3 separate regions of the Homo sapiens genome follow, and all the other regions are linked to region 2. Evidence: fine-mapped expression QTL. A gene starts in region 2. Each other region holds a variant in brackets. All regions are shown on one strand. Distances are from middle to middle.

Region 1 (6,846 bases), 62 kb before region 2:
AAAGAGTGTGACAATATTCAATGCTGGTGAGAGTGCAGGGAACTCTCATACAATGTTGGCAATGTTGTAAATGGGTACAATCCTTTGGGGAAGTATTTGATATTGTTCATTGGGAGCCATAAAATTGTAACTTAAGAATCTTTTTTGTTCGGGCGTGGTGGCTCACACCTGTAATCCCAGCACTTTGGGAGGCTGAGGCGGGCGGATCACCTGAGGTCGGGAGTTCTAGACCAGCCTGACCAACATGGAGAAACCCCGTTTCTACTAAAAATACAAAATTAGCCAGGTATGGTGGCACACGCCTGTAATCCCAGCTACTCATGAGGCCAAGGCAGGAGAATAGCTTGAATACTGGAGGCGGAGGCTACGGTGAGCCAAGATCATGCCATTGCACTCCAGCCTGGGCAACAAGAGGGAATCTCCCTCTCAAAAATAATAATAATAATAATTTTTTGGATAATTTTTAAATTGAGGTATAATTTACATCTAGCAAAATGCTTAAGTCTTAAGTGTCCAGTTTGAAGAGTTTTGATAGATGCACACTCATGCAATTCACAAGCTAATTAAGATATAGAACACTTTCACTATCTAAAAAAAATACCCCTGTGCCAGCCCAATAACCCTCACATCCTCCTCCCACCTCCTACCATTTTTCTGATTTCTTTTGCCATAGATGAATTTTGCTGCTCAAGAACTTCATACAAATGGAATCATACAGAATGTAGTCTTTCGTGTCTGGCTTCTTTTTCCTTTTTTTTTTTTTTTTTTAAAGATTTATTCATTTTATTGCTTGTATTAGTAGTTCATTCCTTTTTATTGCCAAGTAGTTATGTATAATATTGTATGGCTCTACCTTAATTTCTTCATCCATTGACCTGTTGATGGACATTTGGGTTATGTCTAATTTTTGGCTGTTATGAAAAAGCTTCTGCAAACAATCTTTTATTTATTTATTTATTTATTCATTCATTCTTCCTTTTTTCATTTTCTTTGAACAACCTTTTAAAACAATTTTTTTCTATTGTGGTAAAATACATATAACATAAAACGTTTACCACAAAAAATGATAACGGAGGTGATAGATATGTTAATTACCTTGATTTAATCATTCCAAGTGGTATACATATATCAAAACATCACATTGTACTCCATAAATATATAAAATTATGATTTGTCAATTAAAAATAATATTAATAAAAATAAATGACAAAATTAGCCATTTTAACCATTTTAAATGTACAATCCAGTGGCATTAATTATACTCACAAGATTGTGGAATCATCTATTTGGAACTATCGATTTCCAAAACCATTCTCATCATCCCAAATGGAAAGTCTAACCAGTGGGCACTAAATCCTTCATTTCCCACTCCTTCCAGCCCTGGGTAACCTCTAATCTACTTTCTGTCCCTATGAATTTGTTTATTCTATAAATTTTATGTAAGTGGAATCATACAATGTTTATCCTTTTGTGTTTGGCTTACTTCGCTTGGCATAATTATTTCAAGGTTCATTCATGTTGTAGTATGTATCAGAACTGTGTTCCCTTTTTAGGCTGAATCATATTCCATTGTATATGTAGAGCACATTTTGTTTATGCACTTTTTAAAATTTTAATTTTAATTTTTCTTAGAGACAGGCTCTCACTCTGTCATCCAGGCTGGAGTGCAGTGGCATGACCTTGGCTCACTGCAGCCTCGACTTCCTGGGCTCAAGCAATCCTCTCACCTCAGCCTCCTGAGTAGCTGGGAGTACAGGCACATGCCACCATGCTCAGCTAATTCTTAACTTTTTCTGTAGAGCTGGGGTCTACTATGTTGCTCAGGGTGGCCTCAAACTCCTGGCCTCAAGCCATCTTCCCACCTTGGCCTCCCAAAGTGCTGGGATTACAGGTGTGAGCCACTATGCCCGGCTTGTTTATCCATTTATTTGTCAATGGACACCTGGGCTCTTTCCATCTTTTGGCTACTGTGAATAATGCTTCTATGAACATTGATGTACAAGTATCTGTTTCAATCTACTTTTATTTCTTTTGGGTGTCTACCTAGGAGTGGAATTGCTGGGTTACATGTCTGTGAACATTCTTGTATAAATCTGTGTATGTAGAGGTGTTTTCATTTAGTTTGGGTAAATACATAGAAGTGAAATTGTTGAGTCACAGGGCAGGTGTACGCTCAACTTTCTGAAAAACCGTCAATCCAATTTTCAGTTATTAGTGTTTTATATTCCCACCAACAATGCTTAAGAGTACCAGTTGCTCCACAGACACATCAGCATTTGGGTTTTCTGTCTTTTTAATTTTAGTCATGTTGATGCATCATCTCAGTATAGTTTTAATATAGAATTTCTTGGCCAGACGCAGTGGCTCATGCGTGTAATCCCAACACTTTGGGAGGCTGAGGTGGGTGAATCACTTGAGATCAGCAGTTCAAGACCAGCCTGGACCAAGATGGTGAAACCCCATCTCTACCAAAAATACAAAAATTAGCCAGGTTTGGTGGTGTGTGCCTGTAATCCCAGCTACTCAGGAGGCTGAGGCAGGAGAATTGCTTGAAGCCGGGAGACAGAGGTGGCAGTGAGCCGAGATCACGCCACTGCACTCCAGCCTGGGCGACAGAGTGAGGATCCATCTCAAAAAAAAAAAAAAGGAATTTCTTTGTGATTTACGATGTTGAGCAGGTTTTCAAATGTTTTGGTCATTCTTATCTTCCTTTGCGAATTACCTGTTCAAATATTTTGCCCATTTAAAAAATTGGATTGCTTTATTATTATTATTGCAGTAGCAGTTGATATAATAAGGAGTCCGTAAACAGACCCACAGTCAATTGATATTCAACCAACGTGCCAAAGCAATTCAATGGGAAAAGAAAAATCTTTTCAAGAAATTGATATGAAGAAACAAAACCTCAACCCAGCTCACACTATACATTAATTTGAGATGAGTCATAGACCTAAATGTCAAAGTTAAAATTATAAAAGTTCTAGAAAAAAACATAGAGGTGATTTTTATGATAGCGTAAGTGAAGATTTCCTGAAGAAGATACAGCAGGCAATATTTCTTTTCTTTTCTTTTTTTTGAGACGGAGTCTCGCTCTGTCGCCAGGCTGGAGTGCAGTGGCGCGATCTCGGCTCACTGCAAGCTCCGCAGAAGGCAATATTTCACAGAGGAATTCTTTGTGGGCCTGGGCCTGACTTGCAATGGGCCAGTTCCTGGGGTACCATGGGTGGGAATTGGGTAAAACTTACCCCAGGTTCTTATCACACGGGACCCCAGAGGCCTGGGTGGAGGCTTGTGACTAACTACATGAGCTTTGCCACGTACTCCTCAATACCTCTGACAAGGACTTACTGCAGTGTTTGGTCTCACCAAGTTTCCCACAATAAAGAGACATGAGTCACCTTTCAAGACCCTTTACCCCCAAGAATGTGGTCTTCACACATGAGACCAAGGTCTACAAGTGGTCAGGAGAGAGGGGGTCTGCTCAGATGGGGGAGTAGTGCCTGAGCTGGCCTCAAGAGGGTTAAGTGGCCCTGCACTGAAAACCTGGACACTGAGTTAG[G/A]GTAGGGCTGGGGGAAAACTTGGGCTTTGGAGTCGTAGGGTCTGGGTTCAAATCCACAGACCATTCCCTTCCTAGCTGTGTGTTGGTGGGTAATTCACTGGATCTTTCTGAGTCCTGGTTTCCTCATCTGAGGTAAAACGAGTTTGCCGGTTGGTCTGAGAGCTGTTCTAGGCATGGTGGGGAGACCCTGACAGGCAGAGGCAGCCCTGCTCTCAAGCAGTTGATTTACAGCTGGGGAAACAAGACAGCCACAAATGCAATACCTCAAACTCAACTTCTCACCAGAAAGCTCCTTTTCCTAATTTTCACAGCCAGTCCCTCAGCCTCCTGGGCCCCAAATACTAGTAAAACCTTTGCCTCCTCTCTCTTCTTTCTTTCTTGTAATCATATAGGTACAAAGTCCTACCAATTCTTCCTGAAATATGTTTCCTTATCAAAAAGTCCTGCAAAGCCGTGCGTGGTTGCTCATGCCTATAATCCCAGCACTTTGGAGGCTGGGAGGATCGCTTGAGTCCAGGAGTTCGAGACCAGCCTGGACAACATATGGAGACCCATCTCTACCAAAAATTTTAAAATCAGCAGGGGTGGTAGTGGCAAGCACCTGTGGTCTCATCTACTTGGGAGGCTGAGGTGGGGGGATTGTTGGAGCCTGGGCGGTTGAGGCTGCAGTGATCTGTGATTGCACCACTGCACTCTAGCCTGAGGTACAGAGCAAGAACTTGTATCAGAAAAAAAAAAAAAAAGTCCTGCGGTAGCTGACACTGCCATTGCCTATACGATTCCCATTCCCTCATCCTCCCTAGCAGGATATCAATTTTGTTCGAAGTGTCAATGAAGGCCAGGTGCGGTGGCTGATGCCTGTAATCCTAACACTTTGGGAGGCCGAGGCAGGCGGATCACCTGAGGTCAGGAGTTCAAGACCAGCCTGGCCAACATGGTGAAACCCTGTCTCTACTAAAAACACACAAATTAGCAGGGCATGGTGGCGTGCACCTGTAATCCCAGCTACTCAGGAGGCTGAGACAGGAGAATCACTTGAACCCGGAGGTGGAGGTTGCAATCAGCCAAGATCACACCACTGCACTTCAGCTTGGGTGACAAGAGTGAAACTCTGTCTCAAAAAAGAAAAACAAAACAAAAACAAACAACAACAACAAAAAGCAAAGTGTCAGTGAAGGTCCAGCAAAAGACTCCCTTCCTATTGCCCTTTGCAGCCAGGGTCATCATGTGACACAGTTCAGATCAATGAGATGGAGGCTGAGGGTCCCTGGGAAAGATGTTTTTCCTATACAGGTACCACCTCTTTCAGCTTCACTCTTTCCATTTTCCACGTGAACAGGCCTTGTAGCCTGGAGGAGCTACAGCTGCCTTTTTGAGATGCTGAGGCACCCTGTCTGAAGAAGGCCCTCACATCACTCAACTTGACTACTGGGTGAGCCCTTGGAGAGGCTTCCCAGCCTCTGCTCTTCAAGCCGAAGTACCACAGGGGACACGAGTCCCAGAGTTACAGGACCCCAGCTATGGTTCATGTGTAAAGGGAACCATTAGGCAACCAGGGGAAATGATGAAGAAGATCTACATTTACAAATGTGGAAAGATGTTCGTGGTATATTGTTAAATTAAAAAGCTGTTTAAAAATAGTTTTTGGGTCAAGTGAGATGACTCACTTATACTTTTAGTATAAGTATGTCCCATGCAATATCTGGAACGTACTTGTACTAAGGGGTTTCTCCCTCCATCGGCACATCCCAGGCATCCTGGCAGCTGCTGGCCTCCAGCAACCCCACATTCTAGTTGTGTGGGAGTGGGGTGTGGCATGGACCCTGTGGGCTACCACTGCCCTGAGCTGCTTCTTCACACACTGGTATTTGTATCTGTGGTAAACCCAGTGACACGGGGGAGATGACATACAAAAAGGGCAGGACCTGAGAAAGATTAAGCTGCAGGCTCCCTGCCCATAAAACAGGGTGTGAAAGGCATCTCAGCGGCTGCCCCACCATGGCTACCTGGGCCCTCCTGCTCCTTGCAGCCATGCTCCTGGGCAACCCAGGTAAGGCCTTCCCCTCGGGATCGATCCTGATGGCCCACCCAGCCTCGCACTCTCAGGCTGGCTGAACCTGGAGCTTGGACTCTGTGGGCACCCAGGTGCCCCTGCCTCCCCCCGGCCTTCTCCCCCGTCATGGAGGCCTGGCCTCCCCTCAGAGCCAGGCTTAGTCCAGTGTGCTGCCCAGCCTGTCACTGGCCTGGCCAAGGAGGAGAGACAGGCCAGGGATTCTGGTCCTAACTCTACTGGCCACACTGTGTGGCCTGAGACCCCCCTTTCCCTCCCAAGCCCCTGCCTCCGCATCTGCGTGGTGAAGGCCATTGGCCCTCATCGGTGGATCTGCGTTTCCTCGGGCCTACACTGTCTAGGATTGTGCGGGGCTGGTGAGAGAACAAGATCTCTTCTGTGTTCAAGGCAGACTTCCTGCCCCCTGCACCCTGCTCTCTCCCAGGCCTTGAGGTCAGTGTGAGCCCCAAGGGCAAGAACACTTCTGGAAGGGAGAGTGGATTTGGCTGGGCCATCTGGATGGAAGGTAAAAAAAGAAAATCCCTTGAAAGGAGATTGAGGGAAGTTTCTAGACAAACCGACCCCCAAATCTGTGTTGCTGGGGGAACAGAGGAGAAGAGAGAGTCTCGCCCTCCTGGCTTTCTAGAAGGAACGTGAGAACACGTGTTTGTGCTGAGAGTGGGTCAGAGCGGCTCCAGGGCAAAGCATGTGGACAGGTATCCTGGCCCCCTGCAAGGCCCAGCTCCTGTCCTAGGCCCTGGTCACCTCCTGGACTCCCACCAGCCAGGAGAACGGGCTTTCCCTCTCCTTCCGCCTGCGGAGGGGAAGCTGAAGTCTGGTCTTCCTCAGGTCTGGTCTTCTCTCGTCTGAGCCCTGAGTACTACGACCTGGCAAGAGCCCACCTGCGTGATGAGGAGAAATCCTGCCCGTGCCTGGCCCAGGAGGGCCCCCAGGTACGTGTTGGCTCTCTGCTCACCTGCCACAGTCCCTCTCCTTTCCCTCCTCCCTGGTGGCTCCTGGGGTGAGGTCTGGAGCTCTCTAATGGTCAGGAGGTGGGAGTGGAGGCTGGGCTGTTTCTGACGATGCTGGTTTTGTTGAATTCATGTCTGGCCAGGAGGGCTACAGGTATCTGGCAGACTCCTCCAGGAGGATCCTCTGGGGTCTCACCCTCCAAGGAGCCTGGGGCTGCAGAACCCAAATAGGCAGACTCCCCTGGGAGTTCCTCAATAGGAGAGGG
Region 2 (6,846 bases):
ACCTCACCAGCCACGGGCACCCCAGTCTTCAGCTACACCCAAGTCTGGGATGCAAGGGGGCCTTAGCAGCTGGCTGACCCAGGATGCCCAAGGTCACCATTCCCTAGACTCTAGGCATCATGCCACATGCTGCACATGCTGCGTCTTTGAGTCCTTGCAGCCGTGTGAGGCACGGTATCATTACTCCCGTTTTACAGAGGAAGCTACTGAAGCTCAGAGAGTACCTGAGCAGCCCTGGAGAAGGAGTGTCACTTTTCCTCCATCTCTGCCACTGACTGGCTGGATGCACAGGAGGACTGGGTCTCCAGACAGGAGTGTAAAGGGCACGAGGGTTGCTTGTCCTTATCAGAGGTTTCCTGAGCACCAGCCTTTAGAGACAGGGAGGAAGGCAAGAGTGCGCCTTTGAGGAACGCACAAGCCCAGGAGTTCCAACAGGGCTGCAGTGGAGGCTAAGTTGCAGCAGGACTTTTGAGCAAGCATGCACACAGGCCAGCAAGAGCAATTGGAGGCTATGGTGAGCAGGGAAGGTTCGCGGGAGGAGGGGGACCGGAGCTGTTCATCGAAGGGTGAGGAAGAGTGTGCGTTGCAAAGGGGAGCCGTGGGAGACCTGGGAGCAAAGGCCAGAACTTTAGGGTTCGAGGCTGAGCAGGGAAACGACAGGAGAATGAGGGCTCCTCTTTGGCAGCACACACCTGGTCTCCAGGACAGAGATAAGGTGCAGGAATATGCAGGTGTCCAGGGAAGACGATGTCTCCGGGAGCACATGCTTTATGATGCTGGCACCCACCTTGGTGGCAAAATGAGATTTTGCATTTACTATATTCAGAAAACTGCATGCCTCAGTGTGTGTGTGTGTGTGTGTCTATGTTTGAAGTCTTATGTCAAAGTCCTTTGACATCCATCTCTTTGTCCTTTCCCAGCTACCCTGAGAAGGTTGGCTGGAAATATCCTCAAAGACAGAAAAGAGTGACGGTGGGAGGAAACGTCTTGCTCGTGGTCATGGGGTTCCGTCGTTGACAAACCAAGGCTCAACCGGGGCTGCTGGCTGGAGCTCCATGCTCCTGCCCCCAAAGCTATGCCCAGATCCCCATCCCACCTCCCAGCACCCTGCGTGCCATCTGCCTCCTCCACCCCTAGGCATTCTCCCATGGAGGAGAGAAGCACTCCACTCTGTGTGAGCCCTTGTGTTTTCATCAGAGTTCAAGGCCAGGGTCAAGGGTCCATCTTCTCCCAAACCACCTTGCTGGCTTTTAGTGTCCACCTTCCTTAAGGAGTAACAGTCACAGAGAAGGGACCAGCAAGGAGTGAAGCCCTGTTCTGAGCCTCGGAAGGGAGCGGCTGGGAAGCAGTCCTCTGGCAAGGACATCTGAGGGCCTACTAGTTTGACCCCTTCTTTCCAGAATCTCCAGTGGAATGGCACTGATGACTGAGGGTCTGGGGGGTCTACCTCTGCCCCTTGCCAATAACCGTGGGCACCTGCAAAGCTCTCACCTGGTGCCAGGCACTGCTCTGAGTGCCTTGCGCATACACGCTTTTCACACCGCCTGGGGAGGAAGGTACGATTATGACCCTCGTTTTACAGGTGAGGAAAGGGAGGCACAGAGAGGTTAAGTGACTTTCCCAAGGTCATTCAGTGAGTGGCAGAGCTGGGGTTTGAGCCCAGGAAATCTGCCTCAAGTAGCTGTTTTGCCTCAATAAATAATACTAACAACAACCACAGCTACCATTTGACGACCCGTTCCTATGTGCCTAGTGCTTTAATTCCTCAGAGCAATGCTGTGACTTAGGCGTTGTTCTCCGAATTTCTCATTTCACAGATGAGTAAATCCCGGTTTAGCAGGGCGCCTGGAGTGAGGTGACTGCGGAGGCTCGCAGACGTTAGGTCTGCCTAAATCCGAAGCTTCCACCCTCCTCTGCCTCTGTGACTTGCTGCGTGACTTTGGAGCTTTCGGAAACTCAGTTTCCCTGTCTTAAGCCCTCTGCTCCTCTTGCTTTCCCGCTCCAGCAAGTGAGAGTGGACTGGGTTGCCGTGCCGGGCGGGTGTGGGTCGCCGGGCAACTCCGGAGTCTCCCCTTCCCCATCGGCCCCCAGCAGAAGTCCCAGCTCCCGGCGTTTTCTGTCTCGTGGCGAGTTGGGGCGGAGGGAGCGGCGGGAAGGTGCCGGGTGGGCAAGGTCGGAGCTGCGTCACCGAGAGGCCGGCAAGGCCAGGGAGAAAAGGCCCCGCTGTGATTTGGGGAAGGGCCGGGGGCCCATAAGTCACGTGCTCGGGGCGGTTGTGCAGGAGCGGACTGTCCTCTGGGAACATAGAAGCGCCCCCGACTAGAGTAGGGGCGGGGAGGGAGCGCCGGAGGAGGCAGGTTCTGGGCCAAGGGGATGGGGGTGGGGGGGAGGTAGGGAGCCCGCGGACAAAGGAGGCGGCCGGCGGCCCAGCTGTTTTGAAAAATGCTTCCTGTTTCTTTAAAGGCGCTCGCGGCTCGGGCGGCCCGGGCTGGGGAGGCGGTGGCGGCGGGAGCTGCCTCCTCTCCGGGCGGCGGCGCTGACTGATCTCGCGAACTGGGCTTCTGTGTAAACTGAGGCTAAACAAACACAGATGGAGCGCAGCGGGCGTTCTCCAGAAATGCTGGCAAGGAGGCAGCGACTTCAGATGACACTCTGAGCGCTCCGGGAACGGACAGCCCGGCGGCTTCCCGAAGCCGGCGGCGCAGCTGCCCGGGGCGAGGGGGAGAAAGGGAGAGAGGGAGGGGGAGGGCGGGCGAAGCGGGAGAGCCAGAGACTCCTCGGCGCTGAGCGCGGCGGCGGCCCGGGCAGCCCCACGCCCCTGCCTCGCGCGCCGCCCGCGCCATGAAGCACATCCCGGTCCTCGAGGACGGGCCGTGGAAGACCGTGTGCGTGAAGGAGCTGAACGGCCTTAAGAAGCTCAAGCGGAAAGGCAAGGAGCCGGCGCGGCGCGCGAACGGCTATAAAACTTTCCGACTGGACTTGGAAGCGCCCGAGCCCCGCGCCGTAGCCACCAACGGGCTGCGGGACAGGACCCATCGGCTGCAGCCGGTCCCGGTACCGGTGCCGGTGCCAGTCCCAGTGGCGCCGGCCGTTCCCCCAAGAGGGGGCACGGACACAGCCGGGGAGCGCGGGGGCTCTCGGGCGCCCGAGGTCTCCGACGCGCGGAAACGCTGCTTCGCCCTAGGCGCAGTGGGGCCAGGACTCCCCACGCCGCCGCCGCCGCCGCCTCCTGCGCCCCAGAGCCAGGCACCTGGGGGCCCAGAGGCACAGCCTTTCCGGGAGCCGGGTCTGCGTCCTCGCATCTTGCTGTGCGCACCGCCCGCGCGCCCCGCGCCGTCAGCACCCCCAGCACCGCCAGCGCCCCCGGAGTCCACTGTGCGCCCTGCGCCCCCGACGCGCCCCGGGGAAAGTTCCTACTCGTCAATTTCACACGTAATTTACAATAACCACCAGGATTCCTCCGCGTCGCCTAGGAAACGACCGGGCGAAGCGACTGCCGCCTCCTCCGAGATCAAAGCCCTGCAGCAGACCCGGAGGCTCCTGGCGAACGCCAGGGAGCGGACGCGGGTGCACACCATCAGCGCAGCCTTCGAGGCGCTCAGGAAGCAGGTACCCGCTCGCCGCCGCACGCCCTCACTGCGCCGGGGGACGACTGCGGGAATGGGTGGGCGAGTGGCCGGGGCGGGATAGAGGTGTGTTTAAGGGGCAAGCTGCCCCGCCCGGTCCGACCCTGGTGCCCAGACAGGTGTGGGCAGTCCTAGGGTATGGATCATAGTTTTCAAAGTGGCTATAAGAGTTGGTTATCTCTGGCCCGAGCACCCCCCGCCCTCAACCCCCGCCTCGGGGGTAACGCTGTCTGCGCTTCTGACTTCAGCCTCCATAGTTCACTTTTATGGCAGCGAGTATTTGCCTGCCGGAGTCCCCTGGGCGCGGTGCGGAGTGGAGAGGGGAAATGTGGGAATCTGTCAGCGGAGGAAGGGGGGAGCCTTCTCCAGTTGGTGGTGGCAAGGTCCGGAACGCTGCGGTGGGACAGTCCGGGGGAGTTGTCAGCCCCTCTTCAGGCCCCAGCGGTGATGCCCCGAACACTCAGGTTGCTTCCGGGCTATGCACTCCTTGCCCTGGCATCCTCAAGAACCCGCGCTACAAGCCTGTGCCCTCTCCCCAGGGGTGGGCTCAGGAATCGGCTGGTGGGAGTCTTTCTAGCAGATCCCTTCCTTTCACCCGTGGTGAAGCAGGCAGCTCTGCCGAGGGGACTGCCTAGGTTGGGGATTCCCTCTGGAGCATCTTCAGAGCCTAGTTCTGGGGTGGGTCCGGGACTTTTTAGTTTGGGGCTGGTGCGGGCTGCCCTCACCAGACAGTGCCCCTGCGCAGGTAGCGGAAGAATACTTAACCCAAGAATTACCCGTGGTGGGGCGGGACAATCGCTTGGGCTTCTAGGCTTCTTATTTTCTTAGCGAGAAGGAGCTCTAGGAAGGAGGTGGTGAGTTCTCTCCCACCCCCACACAGGGCGTGGGGAAGGGTTAGGGTAGATGTGGCTGGTTTGAAGGGTGTTTTTTTTTTCTTTTTATTTGCATACTCTGCAGCTGACTTGCTGTGTGACTCCAGGAATGTTGCTCAACTTCTCTGGGCTTTATCCAGCAACAAAACATTTCAGAAACCATGATCTTCTTTTTGGATCACTCTCCTCTTCCTGCTGGGGGTTGGGGTGGGGTGGGGCAGTAGTGCCTGTGTCCATCCATGGAAAGGAAATTGAATCCTTGGAGGAAAGAGGCCCTATGACTTTTGAGCCAAAGTGTCTTGCTTGGGCTTGGGGAAAGTGGTCAGTGAGGTGGGGTGGGGGTGGGGGTGGGGGACGGGTGGCTGTCACAGACCAGGCTGGGCCTCTGCCCTCATCCACACCAGCTGGAACCCTGGGCGGTGGGTCCAGTGGAGCAGTCAGTCCCACCCTGAGCCAGCAGCTCTGTGTCTGCATCGCTGGGTAGAGGTGGCGGTGCGTGGGGGATCCTGCAACCCACTCCCCAGGACAGAAGGATAACAGAAGGGCAGAGAGATGCCTGTCCACCTGCCCACCTTGCCACTAGGGAAGCCCCTCCTAGACTGGGGAGGCACGTGCCCAGAGCCTCATAGCTGTTGAGTAGCAGGTCAGGGCTGGCACCTAGGGGCTTTGACTGCAGGTTCTGGGCCCTTGTGCTCCTCTATTGCCTCTGTATGCTGAGAGAATACTCATCTGAGTGCTTTGTTACATCTCATGTGCCCACTGACTTTTACTTCATTCAACAATCAATTCCATCTCATTTGATCTAAACATAATCCCTGTCGAAATTGGATTAACTCATTTTATAGTATGGAACACTGAGGCCCAGAGATGGAAGGAGACTTGTCCAAGGTCACCTAGTGGGTTAGGGAAGATAACAGCAGTTTCTGGAATGCCCTCCTGGCCAAATGCTTCCCACAGTGCCATCTGTATCAGCGTCATGTGCCACCCCCCCAGCCCCCAGCCTGTGATGTTTGTTAACAATCAAGGCAGGGTGCACACTTGGCAGACCCTTTGAGATGAGATTGTTCATCCTGGTCTCCTTTTACTTCCCCCCTTACCGTGGGAAGTTCTCTATAAAAAGGGCAAGTTCAGTGTATCTAAGTAGAAGGCACACCCATGCCCTCTCAGGGAGAGCGTGTGTATGCAATGCAAACACACAGGCAGGTACACACACACATGCTCCTTACACGTGCTCAAGAGCACACACAAATGCATGGTCACAGAAGCACCTGTTCCTGTTTGTTTCCTCCTTGCCCTAGCCATTCTGCCCCTTCCCCAGAAAGGCTGCCAGGCCATAGTGGGCACCTGCCTGTTAGCTGGGAAGGAAAGAAATACAGCCAGGACGTTTCTGGTCATAGAACCAGGGGCCAAGGCCACACCCACCATGTCCTCCTCACCACCATGGCACCCATTCGATAGAGGAAGTCCTGTGTTCTGGAGGAGCCCCTTCCTCCTCTGGGCCTCAGTCTTCTCTGTAAAATGTACTCCGCACCCCCTCCCCGAATCCAGACGAGCTGCAGCTCTGGAGCTAGGCTCGGGCCTGACTGAAATGGGTCCTTGGAAATGGACAAAAGGCAGATCAGCTCCGCCTGAAATGGGGCCTTGGCCAGTGTGGCACTGAGATGGGTTCTGGGATTGTGGCTCTGGCCTGGGGCTTCATTCTCCTGAGCAGCTTCCTGGTACCATGAAAGAAGCACTGATCTGGGAAACTGGAGGCCAGGCATTGAGTTGTTCCTCCCCTGCATGCCTTCTGTGTGGCTGTGGACAAGTCACTGACCCTTTCTGGGCCTCAGTTGCTGAAGTTGTAAAATGGTAATATTGCTGACCTCATCCAGTGTTGAGAAGAGAAAGTGAGGAAAGGTAGGAGGCCTATAAGAGCAGTGAACATTTCTTTCATTTCATTTTTTTTTTTTTTTTTGAGACAGAGTCTCTTTCTGTTGACCAGGCTGGAGTACAGTGGTGTGATCTCAGCTCACTGCAAACTCCACCTCCCAGGTTCAAGTGATTCTTCTGCCTCAGCCTCCCGAGTAGCTGGGATTACAGGTGCGCACCACCACACCTGGGTAATTTTTTGTATTTTAGTAGGGATGGGGGTTTCACCATGTTGCCCAGGCTGGCCTCGAACTCCTGGGCTGAGGTGATCCACCCACCTCTGTCTCCCAAAGTGCTAGGATTACGGGCATGAGCCACTGTGCACAGCCAGAGCACTGAACATTTCTTAAGCATCTCCAAGGTCCTCAGGGCTGGGCAAGGCTCTCGACAGATGAAGCAATAAGAATTCTTTAATTGTTTTAATAACTGTCACAGAA
Region 3 (6,846 bases), 55 kb before region 2:
AGTGCACTGGTGTGATCTTGGCTCACTGCAACCTCTGCCTCCCTGGCCCAAGCAATTCTCCTGTCTAAGCCTCCTGAGTACCTGGGGCTCCAGGTGTGCGCCACCATGCCCAGCTAATTTTTGTACTTTTGTAGAAACAGGGTCTCACTGTGTTGCCCAGGCTGGTCTCCAACTTCTGAGCTGAAGCAATCCACCTGCCTTGGCCTCCCAAAGTGTGGGATTACAGGCATGAGCCACTGCACCTGGCTGCTGAAGCTTTTTAAAAGAGCTGAGGGCTGGGATGTACTTAGCTCCACGTCCAGCACTGAGTAAATGCTTAACGAATGACTGTGTTACTACCAAGAATTATTGTTTCACTCTCCCTCCTTCCCTCTCCTCTGCTGCCCCAAACTACTCAGCATCCTGGCACTGCAGGCTCGCACTTAGCCCTGGATACCCAGATTCATCCTCCTCCCCTGGGATGGCATAGAAGAGACTTTAAAACCAAATGAGCCAAGACTCCAAGCTCTGACCACACCTCCCACCCCACCAGTCTTCTCTATGCACCCCCTCTATCTGGAGCCCCCAGCCAGGTCCTGGACCCAGGTAGCTACATGGCAGAGCATTTAATGTGTGCCTGGCAGCCATGGGCACCATTCTCCACACAGAAGGCAGGGGACAGGTGCACAAGGCGCTGAGACCCCAGCAGGGCTAACTGTCCTTGTCTCAGGAGCCCTACCTGGCCAGTCTTGGGCCAGGCCTTGGGGACTGGGAGTAGGGGCTGAGCCCCGTCTGTACAGTCTCTGGCCCCATGGGCACCAGGTGCCAGCTCCTCGCACCCAGTACTCCCATTGCTAGGGCTGCTGGAACCTGCAGGGTGGCAGAGCTGGGCAGGACTCACCCTATAACCATGTCCACTGTGGTGCTGCTGCTGCAGAGAAGTGTTTCCAATGCTGCGACCCGGGTGTGTAGGACGGGGAGGTCACGATGGCGCGACGTCTGCAGAAATTTCATGAGGAGGTATCAGTCTAGAGTTACCCAGGGCCTCGTGGCCGGAGAAACTGCCCAGCAGATCTGTGAGGACCTCAGGTTGTGTATACCTTCTACAGGTGAGTGCAGAGGTGACAGCAGGGATACCTCCTGAGGGTTGGAGACAGCTTCCCCCAGGATATATCAAAGCTGCCTCCTTACTCCCCCATCTCCCAGCTTGGGAAAGTGTGGAGAATTGAGCAGATGGACTTTAGCTAGAAATGTTTGAGAAATACTGATTAGAGCTTGGGCTTCAGACACAGGTGGTCGTGGAGTAAAATCTGGTCTCCATCTCTCCCTGGCTGTGTGACCTTAAGCAAATAACTTGACCTCTCTGAGCTTCAGTTTCTTCATCTGTGAAGGGGAGATAGCAATCCTGATTTTTGAGATTGGAATGAGAATTGAAGGAGGTCACCGTGTGTGTGGACCTGACCCTGGGGAAATGTCCTCAGACTGAGGCTATTCAAGGTCATCAGACCCTCAGTCAAACTCCAATCCCAGCCCAGCACAGGCCCCTGGGGTCGGGAGCTGGGGCCATATCCTCCCCCACAATCCTGGGCCCTGAGATCTGGGCTAGGGAACCCTTCAGGCAGGGGAGCATGAGGCCTTTCCCTCCATGGCTGCCCAGGCTGTGCCTGGAGAGAACAGATCTCGGCTGTAGGAAATGGGGCCAGAAAGGGGCCTCGGTGATTGGCTCTGGCAGCTCAGCTGGCACTTGCCAATGCTCTGGGATTTTATGCTGGCAGATCGGGGGTCCCCACCATTTCCTGTCATTGGAGCTTGTGGCTTTTCTATTCAAGGCCCCACAACCTGCTCAGGCTGCCGACTGGCTTCCAGGATGTGCCTCTGGGTGTGTTCAGTAGGGTCAGGTGGCTCTGGGACCTTAAGCAAGTAACATTCTGAGTGCCTGCTTCTCCTTGAGGACCCACCACATCTGCCCACAGCTGGCTGTTCTCTCCTCTCCAGGTCCCCTCTGAGCCCTCTCACCTTGTCCTGTGGAAGAAGCACAGGCTCCTGTCCTCAGATCCCGGGAACCTCAGCAACCTCTGCCGGCTCCTCGCTTCCTCGATCCAGAATCCACTCTCCAGTCTCCCTCCCCTGACTCCCTCTGCTGTCCTCCCCTCTCACGAGAATAAAGTGTCAAGCAAGATTTTAGCCGCAGCTGCTTCTTCTTTGGTGGATTTGAGGGGTGGGTGTCAGTGGCATGCTGGGGTGAGCTGTGTAGTCCTTCAATAAATGTCTGTCGTGTGTCCCATACACTGTTGTAGATGTTATGGATTTAGTGGTGAACGAGACAACCTTAACAGCATTCACACAGTTAGTCGTGAAATGCTTACTGAGCACTCACCACAGCCATGCGTTATTCAGAAAGGCCAAGGCACACAGTGGCGATGTCCCCAGAAGCTCTCAGACCAGTGGGATAGACCAGCAGGGTTAGAGGTGTTTTTGTTTTGTTTTTGGTGAAAAGGAACAGAAACCCATCCTCTTGCTTCTTGCGACAGGCAGCCTTCCTTTGCGGTTTCGGGGGAGTGTATCTTTTAGGGCCCTTTTGGTTGCAAGCAACAGAAGTCTCAGCCCATTCTGGCCTAATCAAAAAAGATAATTTACTGGTTCAAATAATTAACCAGTCCACGGGTATGTTCAGGCACAGAATGATCCAGAAATGTGTGGCGTCAGCAGAGCCCCAGTCCTGTTTTATTGCAATTTTTCGTTCTCCCGACCTCTGTATATTGAAATTGTCTTCAGGTTCGCTTCTCTCTTGGCAGCAGAAATGGCTTCATCAGGTCCACACTTCACCTCTTTACAGTGCCTCCATCAGA[G/A]GGAGAGAGAGCTCCCTTGGAAAGAAATAGGAAGCTTCTTTCCCAGAAGGCCTATCAGCTATCTCCTCAGTTCTCATTGGCCAGTTCTCACAGGTCATTTGCCCACCCTCAGACCAATCACTGTGTCCTGGAGAATAATGGGGTACACTGATTGGCTTAAGCTAAGCAGGGCACACCCCTGGAGCTGAGGTGGGGTCCATCTCAACCCAATCACTTGGTTGACAATAAACATGAAAATCTGGGCTACTGTTGGTGGGAAGAGGGAAAAATGGATGCTGGCCACCCAAGGAGTATGGTGTGTTATTCTGGGTTCAATCAAAGAAGCTGTTCAAGGGGACTACCGATGGCCAAATCTGGGGCTATTTGAGCCTCAGAATAGATGATGACAAGAACAGATCGTAATCCATTGAATAAAGCAGAATCCATGAATTCATACAAATACAAATAATACATGAATAAATAAACAAGGGAAAAGGAAACGTGCTACCTTACAATACAATTACAGTTAATAAATGTAGACATAGTTGCAAAGTATATCCTACTAACATATTTGGTATAGTGAGTATATCATATACTAACTTGATTTTTTAAAAGTGTTTATTTATTTATTTATTTATTCTTTAGAGACAGAGTCTCACTTTGTTTCCCAGGCTGGAGTGCAGTGGCCCTTCTCAGGCATGATCTTAGCTCACTGTAGCCTCAAACTCCTGGCCTCAAGGGATACTTCCACCTAGGCCTCCAGAGTAGCTGGGACTACAGGTGTGCAGAACTGCGCCTGGCTCACTAATTTGATATTAATTAATACATTCCATTATTAGTTAACCTGACAGTGGAGAAGCCTGTCAGCTGATGAAAGTTACTCCCACCTCCCATGGGGCAAGTCAATATCATGGGCCTCATAATATAATGCTCTGAGAGAAATATAATACTACTTTTCCATTGTTCCTGCCGAAATGCAAAAATCATGAGGAAACATCAGAGCAACTCAAACTGACATTTTACAAAATACTTAGCATATCCTTTTTTTAAAAATTTTTTAAAAATTTTTTATTTTAGACTGAGTCTGGCTCTGTCACCCAGGCTGGAGTGCAGTGGCACGATCTGGGCTCACTGCAATCTCCGCCTCCTGGGTTCAAGTGATTCTCCTGCCTCAGCCTCTGAAGTAGCTTGGGATTACAGGTATGTATCACCACAGCTGGCTAATTTTGTATTTTTTATTAGAGAAGGGGTTTCACCATGTTGGCCAGGCTGGTCTCAAACTCCTGACCTCAAGTAATCTGCCTGCCTTGGCCTCTCAAAGTGCTGGGATTACAGGCGGGAGCCACTGCACTCTAGCCTGTCCTCTTCAAAAATGCCAAGGTCTTGAAAGACAAGTAAAGATTGAAGAACTGTTCCAGATAGAAGGAAACTAAAGAGACATGACAACAAATTGCGACACATGATCCTGATTTGGATCCAGACCTATAAAGAACATAATTGGGGCAATTTATAAAATGTGACTGGAATCTGTGATGGTAATATTCTGTTAATGTTAATTCCTGATTTTGATGGTTGTACTATGGTTATGTACGGCAGTGTCCTTGTTAGAAAATATACACTAAGGTATTCAAAGAGTAATAGGTCATCATATCTGCAATTACAATTTCTGAAATGATTCAGAAAAAAAGGGAATACATACGCAAAGAATGAGTGTGATAAGGTATATACCACATACATGCAATGTGGTAAGGTGTTAACAGTGGAGAATCCTGTTTAAGGGTAAATAGGGGCTCCTGTTTACACTGGGAGGTTTGGAAGGTGTAATCTCCAAACTCCATGGCAAGTTGCAAGAATGCAACTTTCAAACTTCATGTTGAAATGTGATCCCTGGCCGGGCACAGTGGCTCATGCCTGTAATCCCAGCATTTTGGGAGTCCTAGGTGGGTGGATCACCTGAGGTTGGGAGTTCAAGACCAGCCTTACCAACATGCAGAAACCCCATCGCTACTAAAAATACAAAGTTAGCCAGGCGTGGCGGCACATGCCTGTAATCCCAGCTACTCGGGAGGCTGAGGCAGGAGAATCACTTGAACCTGGGAGGCCGAGATTGCGCCATTGCGCTCCAGCCTGGGCAATGAGGACGAAACTCCATCTCAAAAAAAAAAAAAAAAAGACATGTGATCCCCAATATTGGAGGTGGGACCTAGTGGGAGGTGTATGAGTCAGGGAGGAGGATCCCTCATGAATGGCTTGGTGCCATTCTTGTGGTAATGAGTGAGTTCTTGCTCTATTAGTTTCTGTGAGAGCTGCTTGTTAAACCTCCTCTCTCTCTTTTTTCTCACTATGTGATCTCTGCACACACTTGCTCCCTTTCTCTTCTGCCATAAGTGGAAACACCTTTTTATTGAGACGGAGTCTCGCTCAGTCCCCCAGGCTGGAGTGCAGTGGCTGCTGCAACCTCTACCTCCCAGGTTCCTGGGTCCAAGTGATTCCCCTGCTGTTGAGACTATTATCATGAAGAGATGTTAAATTTTGTCAAATGATAGTTCTGTGCTATTGAGAGGATCATGTGTTTTTCATTTTTAATTTTACTGATATGATGAATTTTATTACTTGACTTTTGGTTGCTGATTTGCCTTGCATTTCTGGATAAATCTTACCTGGTCATGGTATATAATTGTTTTTATGTGTTGCAGGATTCAGCCTGCTAGAATTTTTTTTGAAAATTTTTGTATCCATATTCAAAAGAGATATTGGTCTGTAGTTTTTTTTTTTCTTTTGATGTTTTCATCTGGTTTCACCTGGTTTTGGCATCAGGGCATCCTCTTCTAGTTTTTGGAAGAGTTTCTGAAGAATTGGTATTAATTCTTTAAATATTTGGTAGAATTCACCAATGAAGACATCTGGCTTGGTATTTTCTTTGTGAGTCATTGTTTTGATGACTAATTCAACCTATTTATTATAGGTCTATTCAGATTTTCTGTTACTCTTGCATCAGTTTCAGTCATTTGTGTCTTTGTAGGAATGTGCCCATTTCATTCTAAGTTGTCTAATGCATTAGCATAATTAATTAGCATAATAGTATAATCCTTTTTCTCTCTGTAAGGTCAGTTGTAATTTCCCCTCCTTCATTTCTGATTCTAGTAATTTGCAGCATCTCTCTTTTTATTGTGGTCAATCTAACTAAAGACTTGCTTTTTCAAAGAACCAACTTTTGATTTCATCTCGTATTCTCAAATATTGTTTCTAGTCTCCATTTTAATAATTTCCACATTTCCACTCTAATTTTTTAAGTATCTCTTTTTTTCTGCTTGCTTTAGGTTTAATTTGCTCTTCTTTCTCATGTCTTTTTTTTTTTTCCATTGTAACCTTGAACTCCTGGGCTCAAGCAATCTTCCTGCCTCAGACTCCCAAGTAGCTAGGACTACAGGCACAGGCCACCATGCTCAGCTAATTTACTTTTCTTTTTTTTAGAGATAGATCTCGCTATGTTGCCCAGGCTGGGTTTGAACTCCTGGCATCAAATGATCTTCCTGCGTTGGCCTCTCAAAGTGCTGAGACTACAGATGTGAGCCACTGCACCCAGCCTTTTTCCATTGTCTTAAAATGGGATTTCTGAGACGAAGATTTCAAATCTTCCTCTTTTTCATTATAGGCATTTACAGCTACAAATTTCCCTTTTGGCACAGCTTAAGCTACAACCCGTAAGTTTTGGTGTGCTGTGGTTTCATTTTCTTTCACCTCAAGGTATTTTCTAATTTCCCTCTTGATTTTTCCTTTAATCCATTGGTTATTTAGGAGTGTGTTGTTTAATTTTCACATATTTGTGAGTTCCCCAAATTTGTTTCTGTTACTGATTATTAGTTTTATTCTGTTGTGGTCAGGGAACATATTTTGTATTCTTTCTATCCTTTTTAATTTATTGACGTTTGTTTTATGGGCTACCACATAGTCTATCCTGGAGGTGTGTTTCCCCACTGCTATCTGGACTCATCTGCACTCCACTGTTTCTGATGAGGAGGCACCTGTTAATAATTGG

Evidence for each region. PIP is the estimated chance that this variant, and not a neighbour inherited with it, causes the effect. A credible set is the group of variants that fine-mapping cannot tell apart.
Region 1: its variant is the best candidate, but not a certain one, in a credible set for the expression of ATOH8 in whole blood (INTERVAL, PIP 0.77).
Region 3: its variant is the best candidate, but not a certain one, in a credible set for the expression of ATOH8 in whole blood (INTERVAL, PIP 0.70).

Annotation. Positions count from the first base shown.
Region 1 is chr2:85,688,862-85,695,707 of GRCh38, forward strand. GNLY (granulysin) reads left to right here and starts at 5,497. Exons shown (of 5, transcript NM_006433.5): 1 at 5,497-5,609; 2 at 6,459-6,562. The coding sequence starts at 5,558. The variant G/A (reference allele first, on the strand shown) is at 3,560.
Region 2 is chr2:85,751,349-85,758,194 of GRCh38, forward strand. It overlaps ATOH8 (atonal bHLH transcription factor 8), which reads left to right and starts at 2,643. Exons shown (of 3, transcript NM_032827.7): 1 at 2,643-3,609. The coding sequence starts at 2,842.
Region 3 is chr2:85,696,590-85,703,435 of GRCh38, forward strand. GNLY (granulysin) reads left to right here. Exons shown (of 5, transcript NM_006433.5): 4 at 917-1,088; 5 at 1,975-2,263. The coding sequence ends at 1,985. Among named protein-coding and RNA genes, the nearest start is that of GNLY, 5.7 kb to the left of the region's middle. The variant G/A (reference allele first, on the strand shown) is at 2,829.